2 separate regions of the Homo sapiens genome follow, and region 1 is linked to region 2. The links come from fine-mapping of genetic effects on gene expression. A gene starts in region 2. The other region holds a variant in brackets. All regions are shown on one strand. Distances are from middle to middle. Region 1 holds the start of AURKC (aurora kinase C). Region 2 holds the start of ZNF460-AS1 (ZNF460 antisense RNA 1).

Evidence for each region. PIP is the estimated chance that this variant, and not a neighbour inherited with it, causes the effect.
Region 1: its variant is fine-mapped to the expression of ZNF460-AS1 in esophagus muscle (GTEx, PIP 0.97).

What each region holds. Positions count from the first base shown.
Region 1 is chr19:57,229,182-57,237,511 of GRCh38, reverse strand. AURKC (aurora kinase C) reads right to left here and starts at 6,489. Exons shown (of 7, transcript NM_001015878.2): 1 at 6,206-6,489; 2 at 5,725-5,770; 3 at 5,288-5,479; 4 at 4,832-4,970; 5 at 3,904-4,052; 6 at 2,454-2,628; 7 at 1,964-2,265. The coding sequence starts at 6,263. The coding sequence ends at 2,095. The variant G/A (reference allele first, on the strand shown) is at 4,454.
Region 2 is chr19:57,276,135-57,284,464 of GRCh38, reverse strand. ZNF460-AS1 (ZNF460 antisense RNA 1) reads left to right here and starts at 4,131. Exons shown (of 3, transcript NR_136529.1): 1 at 4,131-4,186; 2 at 7,409-7,530. It overlaps ZNF460 (zinc finger protein 460), which reads right to left and starts at 3,980. Exons shown (of 3, transcript NM_006635.4): 1 at 3,629-3,980. The coding sequence starts at 3,658. RefSeq lists enhancers at 2,499-2,618, 3,547-4,138, 3,522-4,721, 4,139-4,730, 3,845-4,784 and a silencer at 3,075-3,124.

The DNA.
Region 1 (8,330 bases), 47 kb after region 2:
CCTTTCCATATGTGTATGACCCGTAGGGTTAAATTAGTTTTCGCTTTGGATGCAGAACAGATATTAAAGTTAGTATATTTATATTCCATCATGGAATGTCTGGAATCAGTGCTGCTGAAGAAAGCTATGTAGATATTGGTGACAATTTTTTTTTTTTGAGACAGAGTCTCACTTTGTTGCCCAGGCTGGAGTACAGTGGCGCAATGTCGGCTCCCTGCAACCTCCACCTCCCAGGTTCAAGTGATTCTCGTGCCTCAGCCTCGCAAGTAGCTGGGATTACAGCCACCATGGCCAGCTAATTTTTGTATTTTTCAGTCAAGACAGGTTTTTACCATGTTGGTCAGGCTGGTCTCGAACTCCTGACCTCACATGTTTATCTGCCTGCCTCAGCCTCCCAAATTGCTGGGATTACAGGTGTGAGCCACTACGCCCGGCCTGGGGACACTTTCAAATCCCTCATGTAAAGCATGACAGAGTTTTCATTATTTAAACATATATCATCTGGTGATCAGTGCTGAGGCCCTAGTGATTTTTCTATCCTTACCTGCCAAAAATGTGCCCAGTGATGTGTTTATCCAGCACCTAAAATGTGTAAGAGTTTATATGTGTGAACCAGTTAATTTATTAGGAATTGCCAAGTGTTTAAAATGTTAATTCAGGAAAACTGATAGGATGAAGCAAAGCATATAGAGGTAAGCACTGTGTCTCCCCATGCAGGTAAAAGAAAGAAAAAACAAAAAAGAGGTAAATACTGAAAGTGCAGGTTAAAAACCATGAACCAATGTCTTGGAGTATTTAACTTATAGATCTGCAATAGTGGGAGCTTTTCATCCAAGTGAAGTGGCTGAGTTATTTATGCTTACGTAGTGGGTCTGGTCATAGCAGAAATCATGCCTGCAACTGCTGGATATTTCACAATGAGGAGACTTTGTAGAATATAATGATAGGAGTAACATTAACAAGGCAAACTCCATATAAAGTGCTTAACAACTAAAGTTAGGAGAAATACTGGTGTAACTGACTGCATTGATCAAAAAACATTTGAGCTTACAGCTGAGGAGTCTAGATGCTTACTGTGGTAGTCAGTTTATAATGGGTGCAGGGAGCAGCTGCCACATGAAGCTGTCACAGAAGGTTACAGAAGGCTGGAAGGCCACTCCCCAAATTGCAGCATGCAGTAATTTCAGAAGAGGTGATATTACATTTATTATGAGGAATGACTTATTCTAATGTCATCAGAGTGCAACACAACACAGAGGTGCTAGTGTATTCACTTAAGAAGTGGGTTGCACTGACGTGCAGTGAAACATTTTATTTCTGAGACAGCAGCATATTGATGTCCATAAAAAGAGAGTGGACCTTTGGGTTGATGACAGTCCTGTTTTACAAATGGCATACTCCTGAAAACATGGAGAATAGTAAGTTGGATCAAGGAGCCACTGTGATAGGTGGCAGGTTTATGTACCCTCAGGGAATTTATCTGCAGAAAGTAGACAAGAGTTTTCTTTCTTTTCTTTTGAGACGGTGTCTCACTCTGTCTCCCATGCTGGACTCCAATGGCACGATCTCAGCTCACTGTAGCCTCTGCCTCCCAGGTTCAAGCAATTCTCATGTCTCAGCCTCACAAGTAGGTGGGATTATAGGTGCCCGCCACAACGCCCAGCTAATTTTTGTATTTTTAGAAGAGACAGGGTTTTACCATGTTGGCCAGGCTGGCCTTGAACTCCTGAACTCAAGTGTTGCGCCTGCCTTGGCCTTCCAAAGTGCTGGAATTACAGGCGTGAGCCACCGTGCCTGACCTGAAAGTAGGCAAGAGTTTTCAGAAGAATGAAGTCACCATCTCCCGAGGTGGAAGGTGGGGGTAGCAGGGAGAACAACCTTGGGCAGCTCTCATGGGAAAGAGTTCCCACAAGAAATAAAGATTCTACCCAGTCACATAATAACTCACACAACTATGAAGAGCTGGTATGAAATGATTCAGCTTTTATTAATTAGCATCTTACATCTTAAAAGAGAAAAAAATAAAGACAAATGAGGTGGCAGAGCCAGGAGAGCTCCCTGAACACACACAAAGGGAACAGAGGCAGACAGGGCTCAGGAAGCCATCTGAGCACAGGGAGGCAGCACCCTTCGGGAGTGGGCCTGAACCCAGGGGTGCTTCAGGATCTGGGCCAGGGGCAGTCTCTCCAAGGGCTGGTATCTGAGAAGCCTGGAAATCAAGTCCCGGGCCCCCAGAGGCATTGATAGTGGAAACCTCACATCTACCTGATGAGGCCAGGAAAGAAGAAAGAGAAGTCTGGTTAATTTCTTTGATCAATGTCCTCCCTCTTCTTTGAGCCTTGTTAAGGCGCTGTTCTGGACCACAGAAGACAACCCTGTGTGTGTGTGTGCCCACAGCCCAGCAGCCATCACTGACCAGCTCCCCCATGAATGCCCAAAGGTGACTGTCCCACCTTGAGGATGCGTCTGTAAGTCTCACTGTGGGAGGCGCTCTCAAAGGGTGGATATCCCACCAGCAGCTCATAGCAGAGCACTCCAATGCACCACAAATCCACCTTTTCATCATATGTTCTCCCCTCAATCATTTCTGGCGGCAAGTAGTCCAGTGTCCCACACATTGTCTTCCTCCTAGAGGAAGGCAGAAAAGGGAATAAGTACTAAGCAGAGGCCCAGGATGAGGGAAATTCTCCTTCCCCAGCTTTCATTGAGATGTGGAGACCCTAGGACACCCTGGAAAGTCCCTCCCAAGCACAGGAGTTTGGAGAGACAAATTTTTAATATGGATCAAGGTTCAGAAAAGTACTGGGGCCTACTATTAATAAATCCATATTTTGGAATTATTCACACAGTGATTTAGCTCATGCTCCAGAATGTTTTCACAAGAATATTCTCAGCATTAAGAAAGATCTAGAACAAACTGATGGTGTATCAATGAGAGCCAAGTAAATAAATTATGGTAAGAAAATTTCTGTATGAAAATCATTCATACAGAAAAATGCACTCCTTTGGAATTGTGGAGCAATGACTTTATTTACATGCAAACTTACTGGTATAGTTATATATTAACAAAGATCAGAAAATAAAAGGTTTGATTGGACCACATTATTTAAATCTACGAATACATATCAAGTATAGGTGTTTGAAAATGGCAGCATTGGCCAGGCATCGTGGCTCATGCCTATGATCCCAGCACTTTGGGAGGCCGAGGCAGGCAGATTACCTGAGGTCAGGAGTTGGAGACCAGCCTGACCAACATGGTGAAACCCGTCTTTACTAAAAATACAAAATCAGCCGGGTGTGATGGCCCATGCCTGTAATCCCAGCTACTTGGGAGGCTGAGGCAGGAGAATCGCTTGAACCTGGGAGGGGGAGGTTGCAGTGAGCCGAGATCACACTATTGCAATCTAGCCTGGGCAACAAGAGCAAAACTCTGTCTCAAAAAAAAAAAAAAAAAAAAAGAAAAGAAAAAGGCAGTAGTTCAGCCAGGCATGGTGGCTGACGCCTGTAATCCCAGCACTTTGGGAAGCCAAGGTGGGCGGATCACCTGAGGTCAGGAGTTCGAGACTAGCCTGGCCAACATAGCAAAACCCTGTCTCTACTAAAAATACAAAAATTAGCCGAGTGTGGTGGCACATGCCTGTTATCCCAGCTACTTGGGAGACTGAGGCAGTAGAACCGCTTTAACCTGGGAGGCCGAGATTGTGCCCCTGCACTCCAGCCTGGGTGAAAGAGTTAGACTCTGTCTCAAAAAAAAAAAGAAAAGAAAAGAAAAGAAAAAGGCAGTATTCCAATAGAAACCCCAAGTTCGTATCTAGGTTTTACACATGGACACATGAAATACATTAAACTGGGTCATTCCTAACTGGTACTCAGAACTCACCCTACCACCACCACCTGACCTACCTCAGGGAGGGGGTGTGCACAGACCAGCCAAAATCTGCAATCTTCACCTCACCCCTGAACCCCAGCAGCAGGTTCTCTGGCTTAATATCTCTGTGAATCACTTTCTTGTCATGGCAGTAGGTCAGGGCATCTGCCAACTCCTCTATTATCTGTGGGTGCAAAGAAAAGTCACCCTGGAAGTGAAGCCTGCCACAATTTCCGTCTGAGGTGGAACACTTACCATGAATTGTATGATTACAGTGGAATCTTTTTGGTCCAGTAACTCCATTTCCTCCTTTTAAATTGCACCAGTTACTGGTGTGTGGGGTGTGGTTTTCCTCTCCTTTTTATGTGGTCTTATAGGATGGATGGTAACATGGACACAGATCCTCCCTGTTGTCCTAGCACAGCAAGTAGCCAGACATAGAACCTACATTGAGCCACTCAGATGATCTCTCACAGGACTTGAGGCCCGAGGAAGTGAAACAGAAACAGGAGGAAAGATGGAAGACCACTCATCCTGACACAGCAAGCTGATTGGACCATTGCTCCTGGGAAAATCATTGCCATG[G/A]TTCCCTTTCCGGAACCCTCTAGAAATCTCTTTGTACCTATCTCTAAGCCAGTTCTAGCTATTTATTCAGTGAACTCCTTCAGAGCCTTTCAATATGTTTCTTTACATAAGGCAGTGGAGTTAGATTCTGTTGCTTATAACCAAAGAATCCAAACCTATACGCAGTACTTATTAATATTCTGGAGATACAATGAGGTTAATTAGGGTATCCAAGGATAAAGCTGTAGAACATACGTGCCATTATATTAAATTTACACAATAACATTCAGAAGTAAACTTCTCAGAAGGCAATGCGGACCCTCCTGACAGCCACAAACAGAGCTCCCACCAGCCCACAGTAAACTCAGAGACCCCAGAGCCTCCAGACCCGCACCTCACCGTGGCTGTGCGCTGTTCATCTAATTTCTCGCTTTTCTGCAGCTCCTTGTAGAGCTCACCCCTTGGAGCATATTCCAGAATCAGGTACACCCGGCGTGCATCATGGAAATAGTTATACAGGCGCAGGATATTGGGGTGTCTGAAGGATTAATGTTGGAAGAGTCAGATTTCTCCCTGAGGCCTATCATATGATGCCACCGTCACTGCCTGGTCACACAAGTGGCAAATTATGCTGGGACCAGAATAACAACAGCCCTATCTGGGAGCAAGTGAGGGGAGAACGGAGAACAGGAACCAGGATTCGAGTGTCTGACCCAGGGTAGGAGGTAGTGTAAATGGAATGAACTGCAGAGAAGTCTTCAAGGTACAAGTGCAGGGTTTACTTGGGGTTAGTATTTGGGGAAAATGCTGGGCTCAGACGTCAAAGATGAAAGAGGAAGCAGAGACTGTCCTTACTGTAGATGAGCCTGGATCTCAATTTCCCGGCGCAGCTGGTGCTCCAGTCCTTCCTTCTCTATCTGCGACTTGAAGAGAACCTTCAGGGCCACAATGAAATGGCTTTCCTTGAGCCGAGCCAGGTACACATTCCCAAATTTCCCCTTGCCCAGGGGACGCCCGATTTCAAAGTCATCGACTGTGAGGCGCCGCCTGACAGGAGAGGAAGAAAAAAGCCTCAGCTTGGGAGGTAGGGTAGGCGGAGGGAAAGTCAGGGATGCCAATGCTCCCCTTCCTCTTTCATTGTATCCTTCCTCTGCCGCTTTCCCTTCTCACACAGACCCAGCCCTATCAGTAGTTCTCGTTCCCAGGAGCCAGCACCCCACACACCCAGTCTGTTCTTCATCCCCACGTCCCACCTTCCTTCCTTTTCCAGATACCAATCCCAAGGGACTCACATGGCTGGGCTGCTGGGCTGCTGGGCTGTTTGGTTTGCTGTAGCCACTGAAAGAGAGGAGGAGGAGGGAGATAGGAAGGGAGAGGGGAGGGAAGGAGAAGGGGAGAGAAAGAGAGGAGAGGAGAACAGTAGAGAAGGGAATAGGGAGCGAGAGGTGAGGGGAAGAAGGGGAGGAGAGAAAGAGAGGGAAGGGGAAGGCAGGGAGAGGGGGAGGGAGAGGTAAGGGGAAGAAGAAAGAGTAAGGTAAGGTAGGGAGGGGAGGAGGAGGTGAAGAAGAGGCAGAGAGAAAGGAAGGGGAGGAGAGAGTAGGGGAGGGAGAGGTGAAAGAAAGAATTGGAGGGAAGGGAGGGAGTGGGGAGAAAAGAAGAGCGTTGGGGAGGAGGAGAGGGAGGGGAGATGTCAACACATGTGTCTTCTGTGCACCCGACCCCTGGCCCAGTCCCCAGCCTTCCCTGCGTCCTTTCTCTGGCGCTGGCTCTCACACTCTTCGCCTGCAGGTTGAGCTTTGCCCAGCTGCACCACAGCTCTGGGGGAGCTCATGGGGAGAAGAGGTGAGGGCGCGGACGCCTTCCTGAACCCTCTGGATGGCTGTTCCCGTTCACAGGGTCCTGAAAGGGGTGGGGGGTCACTTTCTGGCCGGGGCGCTTCCAATCCTGCTCGTCCTGCAGCCTCACTGATGTCTCACTGCTACACAGGCTTCGGGATCCGCGGCGTCGTGAGCAGCCGTGGCTGCGCGGCCTTCTTTTATACCCGGCACCAACCGCTCAGAGAGGTACTTCCTGGCTGGCTCCTATTGGCTGAAATTCCTGACGCCATCGGAAGTGCGCCCAATAGAAAGGACAGAAACGGGAGCCTCAGTCCAGGGTTCCCGGGTTGGGGCGGAACTGGAGTGCTGCGGTCCGGGCTGGGCACTGAAAGCGAGGGCCAGGGGTGAGGCCCGAGAAGGAAGGAGACAGAGGGTGCGGAGAGGTGGTGATGGCCGTTGTGGGAATGAACAACGCATACACCCACGGGGTGTGCATGCGTCAACTAGGAGAGAGCCGCGATGCACGTGGGAATGAACAGACGCCCACTCCTGACGTGCTGGAGCCTCGTGCAGCCCGTGACCCTAAACCACTTCGCGCCTTGTGCAGCCGGCGACCCCAAAACCACCTTGCTTCAAGGTCACGTCCGATTCAGGCCACTCTCCAGGGTCACCGCGATGGGGCTCCCTGAAGCCTGCGGCTGTGCCTGCTCACAGCCAGGACGCCACCAGTCCAGCTCACTTACCCCTCTCCTCCCACTCGCCAAATATTTGTTGGACCCTGTAATCAGTTTGTGGATTTGGCCTCAGATCGTAAAATCAGCCCCCACGTATTTGTTTAGCAAACACATAAGTTTCAAAAACATTAAAAATTGAATTCTTTTAGACAGGGAACATATCTTGCAGAAATATAATTGAAGGCCTGGCGTGATGGCTCATGCCTGTAATCCCAGCACTTTGGGAGGCCGAGGCGGGCGGATCACCTGAGGTAGGCAGTTCGAGACCAGCCTGGCCAACAGGGCGAAACCCCGTTTCTACTACAAAAATTAGCCGGGTGTGGTGGCGCATGCCTGTAATCCCACCTACTCAAAAGGCTGAGGCAAGAGAATCGCTTGAACCCTGGAGGCGGAGGTTGCAGTGAGCCAAGATCATGCCACTGCACTCCAGCCTGGGCGACAGAAGGAGAACGAGACTCTGTCTCAAAAAAAACAAAAACAAAAACAAAAAAACCCAAAAACAAAAAAGCTCGTCTCAAAATATTTGGGGAGACCTATTTGAGTAATAAAACTCTGGTCTCTCATTTAGCTCGATTGATGTGAATTAAACCCTTTATTGCAATTATCCTGTCTTGATAAGTCGACTCTATCTGGGGAGCAGGGAAAATAATGAACCCATTAGGTGGTTACAATAGGTGGATCAGGGTAATGGCGCTTAGCTCAGGCCAACCATTCCTTTCTCAGAGGCTTTCCCAAACCTGTCTGTTTGTTTGTTTATTGAGACGGAGTCTTGCTCTGTCACCCAGGCTGGAGTGCAGTGGCTCGAACTCAGCTCATGCAACCTCCGCCTCCTAGGTTCAAACATTTCTCCTGCCTCAGCCTCCTGAGTAGCTGGGATTACAGGCACCTGCCACCATGCCCGGCTAATTTTTGTATTTTTAGTAGAGACAGGGTTTCACCATGTTGGCCAGGCTGGTCTCGAACTCCTGACCTCAGGTGATCCACTCGCCTCGGCTTCCCAAAATACTGGGATCACAGGTGTGAGCCACTGCGCCCAGCTCCAAACTGTCAATTTAAAACAGCCCCCACTACAACGTCATCCTGTTCTGTTTTTCCTTAGGTCACTCATAACCATGTGAAAGTGCTGTTTTATATATGTGTATATTGTTAATTTAATGAGTATCGATTGAGTGCCTATCTTGCAACAGGCACTGCTCTAAAAAATCAGATATGTACATAGCAAAATAATTATGCATTCCTGTACTTGAGGAATTTTTTTTTTTTTTTGAGATGCAGTTTCACTCTGTCGCCCAGGCTGGAGTGCAGTGGTGCGATCTCGGCTCACTGCAACCTCTGCCTCCCAGGTTC
Region 2 (8,330 bases):
ACAGAGAATCAAAGGCCAAATCACCAAGCACCTCCAAAGGGCCAAGATCTGTGCTAGGATCAAGGGGAATGTGGACACTGCCTTGCATGGATTACAGCAGTGAAGAGGAGACAGAAGCGGCTGAGGCAGGAGAACTGCTTGAACCTGGGAGGCGGAGATTGCAGTGAGCTGAGATCGTGCCACTGCACTCCAGCCTGGCAACAGAGCAAGACTCTGTCTCAAAAAAAAATAAATAAATAAATAAAAAATAAATAAATAAATAAATAAATAAAGCCTCCTAGGCAGGAAGCCACTTGAACTTAACACAGAAATAAGGTTAGGACAATCCCAAGTGGACTGAGAGGCACAGACAGTAAGTGCTCTGACATATTAGAGGAATGGGAAATAATAATAATAAAAACATCACCACCAGCAACAATAACAGGAACAGTATCTGAGTCTTACCAATCCTCCCTGTGTGCCTGCCTCATGCTGACAGGTTTACATGCCATGGTAAAGTGACTGAAACTCCCCAGCTCAGGAGCCAGACTCCTGAGGTTTAAAACCAAATTCCTGAAATCAACGTGTGCCTGCTATGTGACCTTGGGGACCTCATTTCATTTCGCCGAGCCTCCATTTCCAGGTCAATATAACCGTGTTTCCCACTTCATCAAGAATAGTCAAGGCTGGGCACGGTGGTTCATGCCTGTAATCCCAGCACTCTGGGAGGCTGAGGCACATGAATTACCTGAGGTCAGGAATTCGAGACAAGCCTGGCCAACATGGTGAGACCCCATCTCTACTAAAAATACAAAAATTAGCCAGGTGTGGTGGCACAAGCCTGCAATCCCAGCTACTAGGGAGGCTGAGGCAGGAGAATCGCTTGAACCTGGGAGGCAGAGGTTGCAGTAAGCCAAGACTGTGTCACTGTACTCCAGAACAGAGCGAGCCTCTGTCTCAAAAAAAAAAAAAAAAAAAAAAAAGAATAGTCAAAAGAACTAAAGAAAAACTGTTTGTAGGCTGGGCACGGTGACTCATGCCTGTAATCCCAGCAGTTTCGGAGGCTGAGGTGAGCAGATCATGAGGTCAGGAAATTGAGACCATCCTGGCTAGCAAGGTGAAACCCCATCTCTACTAAAAATACAAAAATTAGCTGGGTGTGGTAGTGTGTGCCTGTAGTCCTAGCTACTCGGGAGGCTGAAGCAGGAGAATCGCTTGAACGTCGGAGGCGATGGTTGCAGTGAGCCGAGATCGCACCACTGAACTCCAGCCTGGCAACAGAGCTAGACTCCATCAAAACAAAGAAAGAAAGAAAAACTGTTTGTAAAAAAAAAAAAAAACAAACAAACACTGAGGCAAAGGCCACAGCATCTGAATTTACCATCATCATCTCTATGTCACACTCAGGGACCTGAGACCTGGGCCTCAGTCCTACCCTCCGCTCTACCAGTCTACCCAAAGTCTCATGTGTTCATGTCTCTCTCTTTTTTTTTTTTTTAGATGGTCTCACTCTGTCACCCAGGCTGGAATGCAGTGGCACAATGTCGGCTCACTGCAACCCTGACCTCCTGTGATCTAGTGATCCTCCCACCTCAGCCTCCTGCACAGCTGGGACTACAGGCACATGATGCCATGCCGGTCTAATTTTTTGTACTTTTTGTAGAGACAGGGTTTTCCCATGTTGCCCAGGCTGGTCTTGAACTCCTGGGCTCAAGCAGTCCACCTACCTCAGCCTCCCAAAGTGCAGGGTTTACAGGTGTGAGCCACCAAGCCCAGCCCAAAGTCACAGGTCTTATCAACAGAGGCAGGATTTAAGCCCAGGGCCCTCTGGTCTGATTATGTAACCTGACATTTCTCTATTAGCAAAGTTAATGCAGTTAATGAGAATGAAGCATTTCAAATCCACATATACATTTCAGCCACTCCCATGGACAAGGGCAGAGAAGTGTAGTCATCATCATCCACCTCACCAAAGAATCACCTGACGTGGTGACACCTGATCAGGTGTTAGGGCCTGGACCTGCTTCCAGGGAGAATTCACAATGAGCCATCGCTTCCTTTTCTACCTAAGTCCTACTAGCAGGCATCCCTGAGGCCAGAAGATTCCATGAGCAAGCAACAAGAGTCATAGAGGGCACAGCAGGTTGTAGCCAAGACAATATGGGCCCATCTGGAGATTACATCTATCCTGGCTGAGTAGGAGGGTACATTCAGCAACATAACCATACAAACGTGCCCTCTCAGAATATGTCAGCAGGTAAGGGAGTAAGGGGAACCACATATAAAACCACCGTGGAAGCCACACAGGTCCCCTGAGAACTCCTTAAACAACCAATATACCATTTTTTAAGTCTACACAGTTCCACCAGTATGAAAGGCCATGACTCCTCATGCCCAAGATCACTGGCTAGAAGGAGGCCTCATCTTGCAAAGGTTACTTTAGGTCTCACCCCCAGGCCTCCCTAACCACTGCGGGTAAAGAAGAGGGTAAAAACACAGGCTATGATGTTAGACACACCAGTTGTTAGTTTCTGACTTAAGAAACTTAAGAGCTACAGTGATGTAAGGCAGGTAATTGGACGTATGTGACCCTCAAATTGCTCTTGTGTAAAACAATGATGACAACAGAACCTAATTCTAAAGAGTAATCCCAGCACTTTGGGAGACCCAGATGGGTGGATCACCTGAGGTCAGGAGTTCAAGACCAGCGTGGCCAACACGGTAAAACCCCGTCTCTACTAAAAATACAAAAATTAGCCAGGCGTGGTGGCGCACACCTGTAGTCCCAGCTACTCAGGAGGCTGAGGCAGGAGAATCGCTTGAACCCAAAAGGCGGAGGTTGCAGTGAGCCGAGGTCACGCCACTGCACTCCAGCCTGGGCGACAGAACAAGACTCCGTCTCAAAAAAAAAAAAAAAAAAAAAAAAAAATTTCAGGGTTAAACGAACTGAGGGTTAAATAATACTCACCGATCAGCCCACAGCAAGGACTCAATGACAGTTAATATCATTCTTTGCAATTATTTTTCTTTGTTCCCATTACATCCTTGACAAACTCAAATCCACAAGCTTCTTTAATACCATCAGATTATCTACACAAAAATACCAGACTCTGGGCAAGGGTGTAAGGTGCCACTTTAGCCGGAATTGCCAAAAAAGGCACCTCCAAATAGGTGACACCTGGACAGATGCCAAAAGGATGTGAAAGGGAGGCCCTGCAAAGTTACAGGGGCAGTGTTCGAAGTAAAAGGAAGTGCAAGGAGAAAGCCTGGAAAATGGAAGAGGACTGCACGGTCAGGTTGGTGGCTCTGAAGAGCAAAGGACCAGGGAAAAATGCAAACAGACAAGGTCAGGGGTGGTTGGCCAGGTGGATGGGGTACGGGCTGGCAGGCAACAGAGAAGGTTGGATTTAGGGGAAGTGTGATGAGATCCCTAGAAGGAAGCATCACTCCTTCAACCACGGACTGAACACCTATCAGAGGCCAACACTGTTGCAGGACTGCGGATAAAGGAAATGACAAGCCACGGCCATTTCTCTTAAATAAACGATGGCGACAAAGAAAAATCCTGTGGCTGTCTTGGCTTCCAGCCTGCCCACGAGGCCTCTAGAAATAGCACAGCAGCAGCAAGGCCGAAACCTCGTCCACTCACCTGCGCCGGAGCCATCCACGCCGCCGCCATCCCGGGAATGCCGCGGATCAGCCGACCACAGCCCTTCTCTGTCCTGGGCGGGGCGACCTCGGCTGACTTTCGCACTCCGAGCCTCAGTTTTCCCCCGAAAAAAATGCGCACAAGGCCCAAGGCGCAGCGTCGGGGCTGAGGAGACGGAGGGCGGCTGCGGAGGCCTAGGCCTCGGCGGGCGCCGGTGGGACACCTCGTTAGGGGAGAAGCGGGGCGTCAGGCTCCCGCCAAGACGCGAAGAAGGGGCGTAACCGCTTCACTACCCGTCCCTGCTCAGGCCGCAGAACGCGCCCACCCAGCGCTCTAGGCCCCACACTGTTTCAGGGCCAAACCGGCCCACGGAGATGACGTCACACGAAGAAGCGGAAGTCCCGCCTCCGCCGCCCTGGCCCGCAGAAAACTCTCCTGTCCTGGGTCGTCAATGGCCCAGAGTCCGCGGCCGACGCAAGGGGCAGTGCCTTCTGGGTAATGCAGTTTTTCCCTTACATCTACCGGGTGTGGGAACTCACCCAGCGCATCCGACTGCACGTAAGTGCGCACCAGAACCCCCGCGTCGTCTTAGGGCCACCGCCTTAGTATAGGCACAAGTCGGAGGGTCGAAAGGTCCCTTCTAGCTCAGGAAAATCGAGGTCAGGAGGCGGGGATATTCGCCCCGATTCAGACCCCGAACAAAGGTGCTTACCCTGCTGTGGGCTGGGCCCGCGACTTCTCGCTTGCTTTGCCTCTTTTCTGGATCTTTTCATAGAAGAAAAGGATAAATGAGCAGTTAAAATAGCCACCCAAAGGAGGACGCCTGACAGTGTGCCCAGCCTGCTGGGAAAGGACAGACCGCCCTCTATTGGGCCTCCTTTGGCCGGGCCCAGCCTTCGTAGGATGCAGGGACTTCCGGGTGATGTAATAGGCTTCGCGTTCGCCACGTGTGGACTTCCCGTACCCTGAGGTGGGGAGGCTGCTAGTGGAGCAGGCTTGCCGGGAAGCCCAGTACTCCCATTTCAAGCATGATCAGTTTGAAACGTCAGTAAGACCACAAAGCGTAGTGCCATATACTCAACCTATGATTCAACATTGGCAGAGGGTTCGAGCGTGGATATATAAATTTGGGAGTTATTACTGTAAACTGTTACTTCAAGTCATGATATTGGGTGAGGCTATGAAAAGAATGAGCGTAGATGGATAAGTGACGGGAAAGAGGGGAACCCTGGCCCAACCCAGCATTAACTGGTTGCAGACAGGAGAGTTTATAAAGTCTTGTTAGGAATTTTAACAATCCTAGACTATGCAAAGATTATATTATGCGAAGTCTTAGGAGTCCCCATCAGTAACTTTTTTTTTTTCTTTTCATGACTATGAAAGTGAGAGAATAAAGTCCAGCTTTCAATGGTTTGACGATATATATGGTTAAGGAAATAGAAAGGTGTGCAGAAAGTACTCTCCAAGAGATTTAATTTTGAGATTGAAAATAGTCAAGGAATGGAGATGGAGTCAATTTCCTACACGATGCGGTACTTTTGGAGAAATATTTTTGGCTAAATTAGTGTGCAAGGAACACTGTTATTCATCACTGGCAATAGTAATTTTTGAAAATTGATAAAGACATCATTCTCTTTTTCACATATTTGTGACTCTTAAATTTTTTTTTTTTTTTTTTTTTTTTGAGATGGAGTTTCACTCTTGTTGCCCAGGCTGGAGAGCAGTGGCACAGTCTCCACTCACTGCAACCTCCGCCTCCCGGGTTCAAGCGATTCTCCTGCCTCAGCCTCCTGAGTAGCTGGGATTACAGGTGTGCGCCACCACGCCTGGCTAATTTTATATTTTTAGTAGAGACAGGGTTCTTCCATGTTGTTCAGGCTGGTCTCAAACTCCCGACCTCAGGTGATCCACCCACCTCGGCCTCCCAAAGTGCTAGGATTACAGACGTGAGCCACCCCCTCTGGCCAGACTCTTATAATTAAATTTAAATGGTTTTTTCAGAGGCATATGAACCAGAGCAACTCTATCTTAAATAGGAGCTGGGTAAAATGAAGCTAAAACCTACTAGGCTGCATTCCCAGACAGTTAAGGCATTCTGAGTCACAGGATGAGATAGGAGGTCAGCACAAAATACGGATCATAAAGACCTTGCTGATAAAACAGGTTGCAGTAAAGGAGCTGGCCAAAACCACCAAAACCAAAATGGTGACAAGAGTGACCTCTGGTCTTCCTCACTGCTACACTCCCATCAGTGCCACGACAGTTTACAAATGCCATGGCAATGTCAGGGAGTTACCCTATGTGGTCTGAAAAGGGGAGGCATGAACAATCCACCCCTTGTTTAGCAAGTCACTAAGAAATAACCATAAACATGGGCACCCAGCAACCCTTGGGGCTGCTCTGTCTATGGAGTAGCCATTCTTTATTCCTTTACTTTCTTAATAAACTTGCTTTCACTTGCACTGTGGACTCGCCCTGAATTATTTCTTGTGCGAGATCCAAGAACCCTCTCTTGGGATATGGATTGGGACCCCTTTCCTGTAACACATTCCTGGCCACTACAGAAGAGACTATACTGCAGGAACCCGTGACCCAAAGGCTAACTTTGGGTAAGTGGTGGGGTCGGGTAACACTTTTCTCGCAAACCACAAAAGGGACAATGCTGAGGAGACCCCCCTGACTCAAAGGAAATAGACTGCAGCACTGATTGGATGACTTTGGGTAAGTGGTGGGGTACCCAGGTAAAGAATGGGATTGGGATAGACGCTCAAGTTAGGGGAGTTAGAGTCTCTCCTAAGGCAGAGTGGATTAGAGGCCCCTCTTAATAAAAGGCAAGGACGCTTGACTGACCTTGGGTTAGAGGCCCAACTTAGGAGGATTAGAGTCCCTTCTAAGATTTAGGGGGTTAGAGACCCCTCTCAGTAAAGTCCCTCTTGGCTAAGAAGAGGTTTGGCACCGTGGGATGTTAACTGCTATTGTCTTTGGATTAATCTGCCTTGCACTCTTTGCTGATGGCTCCGGGCGACAGGGTTAGGCGTGTACAGGATCGTGGGACATGGGGAGCTTTTTCCTCCCCCAAAAGGGGAAACTTGAGAGCTGACGGGACTGCTGGAAAAAAATCCCTTCACGACAGCAGCCGTAGCCGCCTGAACTTTTCAGTGTCACTGCAATGGGTGGGTCTTTCTCTGGCCTCCCTGATCATTTTGCCTTCCCTGGGAAAGTATTGCTTGTGGAAAATATTTCCTGGGAAAGTATTGCCTGCGAAAGCATTTCCATATATAATTTTTTTTTTTTTTTTGAGACGGAGTCTCGCTCTGTCGCCCAGGCTGGAGTGCAGTGGCGCTATCTCTGCTCACTGCAAGCTCCACCTCCCGGGTTCAGGCCATTCTCCTGCCTCAGCCTCCCGAGTAGCTGGGACTACAGGCGCTTGCAACCATGCCCGGCTAATTTTTTGTATTTTTAGTAGAGACGGGGTTTCACCATCTTAGCCAGGATGGTCTCGATCTCCTGACCTTGTGATCTGCCCGCCTCGGCCTCCTGAAGTGCTGGGATTACAGGCGTGAGCCACTGCGCCCGGCCCCTTTCTTATCTTTTCTATTACTCTATTACTCAGGGCGACCATCTTGCCCAGAGACCACATGTTGAAACTCCAAGTCAGAGGTTGGATTAAAGATGACAGGGCCTATCTGGGGGCAAATTTAAGCCTTGCCAGTTTAATATTGGGTGCTAAGCAGAGTGGCTAATGTGTATGTTTCATCACATGTGTTTTGCTCTGGTCAGAATGAAAAAAAGTAGTTTTCCTTTACAATGAGGCTTGGCCCCCAGGGCGATGGTGCCACAAGCCAGATCACTGGGACCACTCAGAGAAAGGGAACACAGAAGCCTGGCATGCCAGCAAAAAGGTAAGAATTTGTTACCAGTCAGATTTCTGACTTCTCCCTCTCTGTGCAAACGGTTGAATGAATGGTAAAAATAATAACAATAATAAAAATAATAAATCAGTGTGTATCTCCTCTGTAAAGTTTTGATTAATATGAAAAAGAATTCTAAGCTAGTCAAACTGGTGTATTTTGTGCTGTGAATTTGTTTTTCTGTAGGATGAAACATGGGCTTAGAACACCTGTGAGCCCACTTTTCAACATGACCCAGCAAACTGGTCAGTAACAAACAGCTGCAGGTCCCTGAAACAAACAAACAGGATGAAGTCTCCCCTTGTTTTATGTCCTTGGGAGCCTGACCTTTTAACCATGTGGCAGTACCTTCTCTTGGTCTCCACCTACTAGGGAAAAGGAATTTTAGGGTTCATGTCATAGTCAGCTCTAAAAATCATATAAAATAGTTAAAAGCCTTTGCAAGCTCAAAATTAACTACTCTAGGCTTCTGTGAAAGGAAGTAGGCACCGTCCCACACTGTAGCTCAGTAACTAAGGTTTCTGCACTTTCACAGTGGCAGTTTGGGTTTGATACCCCACCTAGGAAGTAAGTCATTTCTGGTTTAATATCTGCGTGACCTTGTCTAGTCTCTTCTCCTCCGCAGACTGTCTTAAATTTTCCTTTCTCTATGCACGTAGGAGATAACCTTTGGTAAAGTTCAGAAGTTAGAAATATTGGCTTCTTGGCATGGCTAAAGTTGGGTAATAAGAGATTTGAAAGGATTTCTTTTTTAAAGAGCACTATGGTTAAAAGTTAGCTTAATTAAAAGT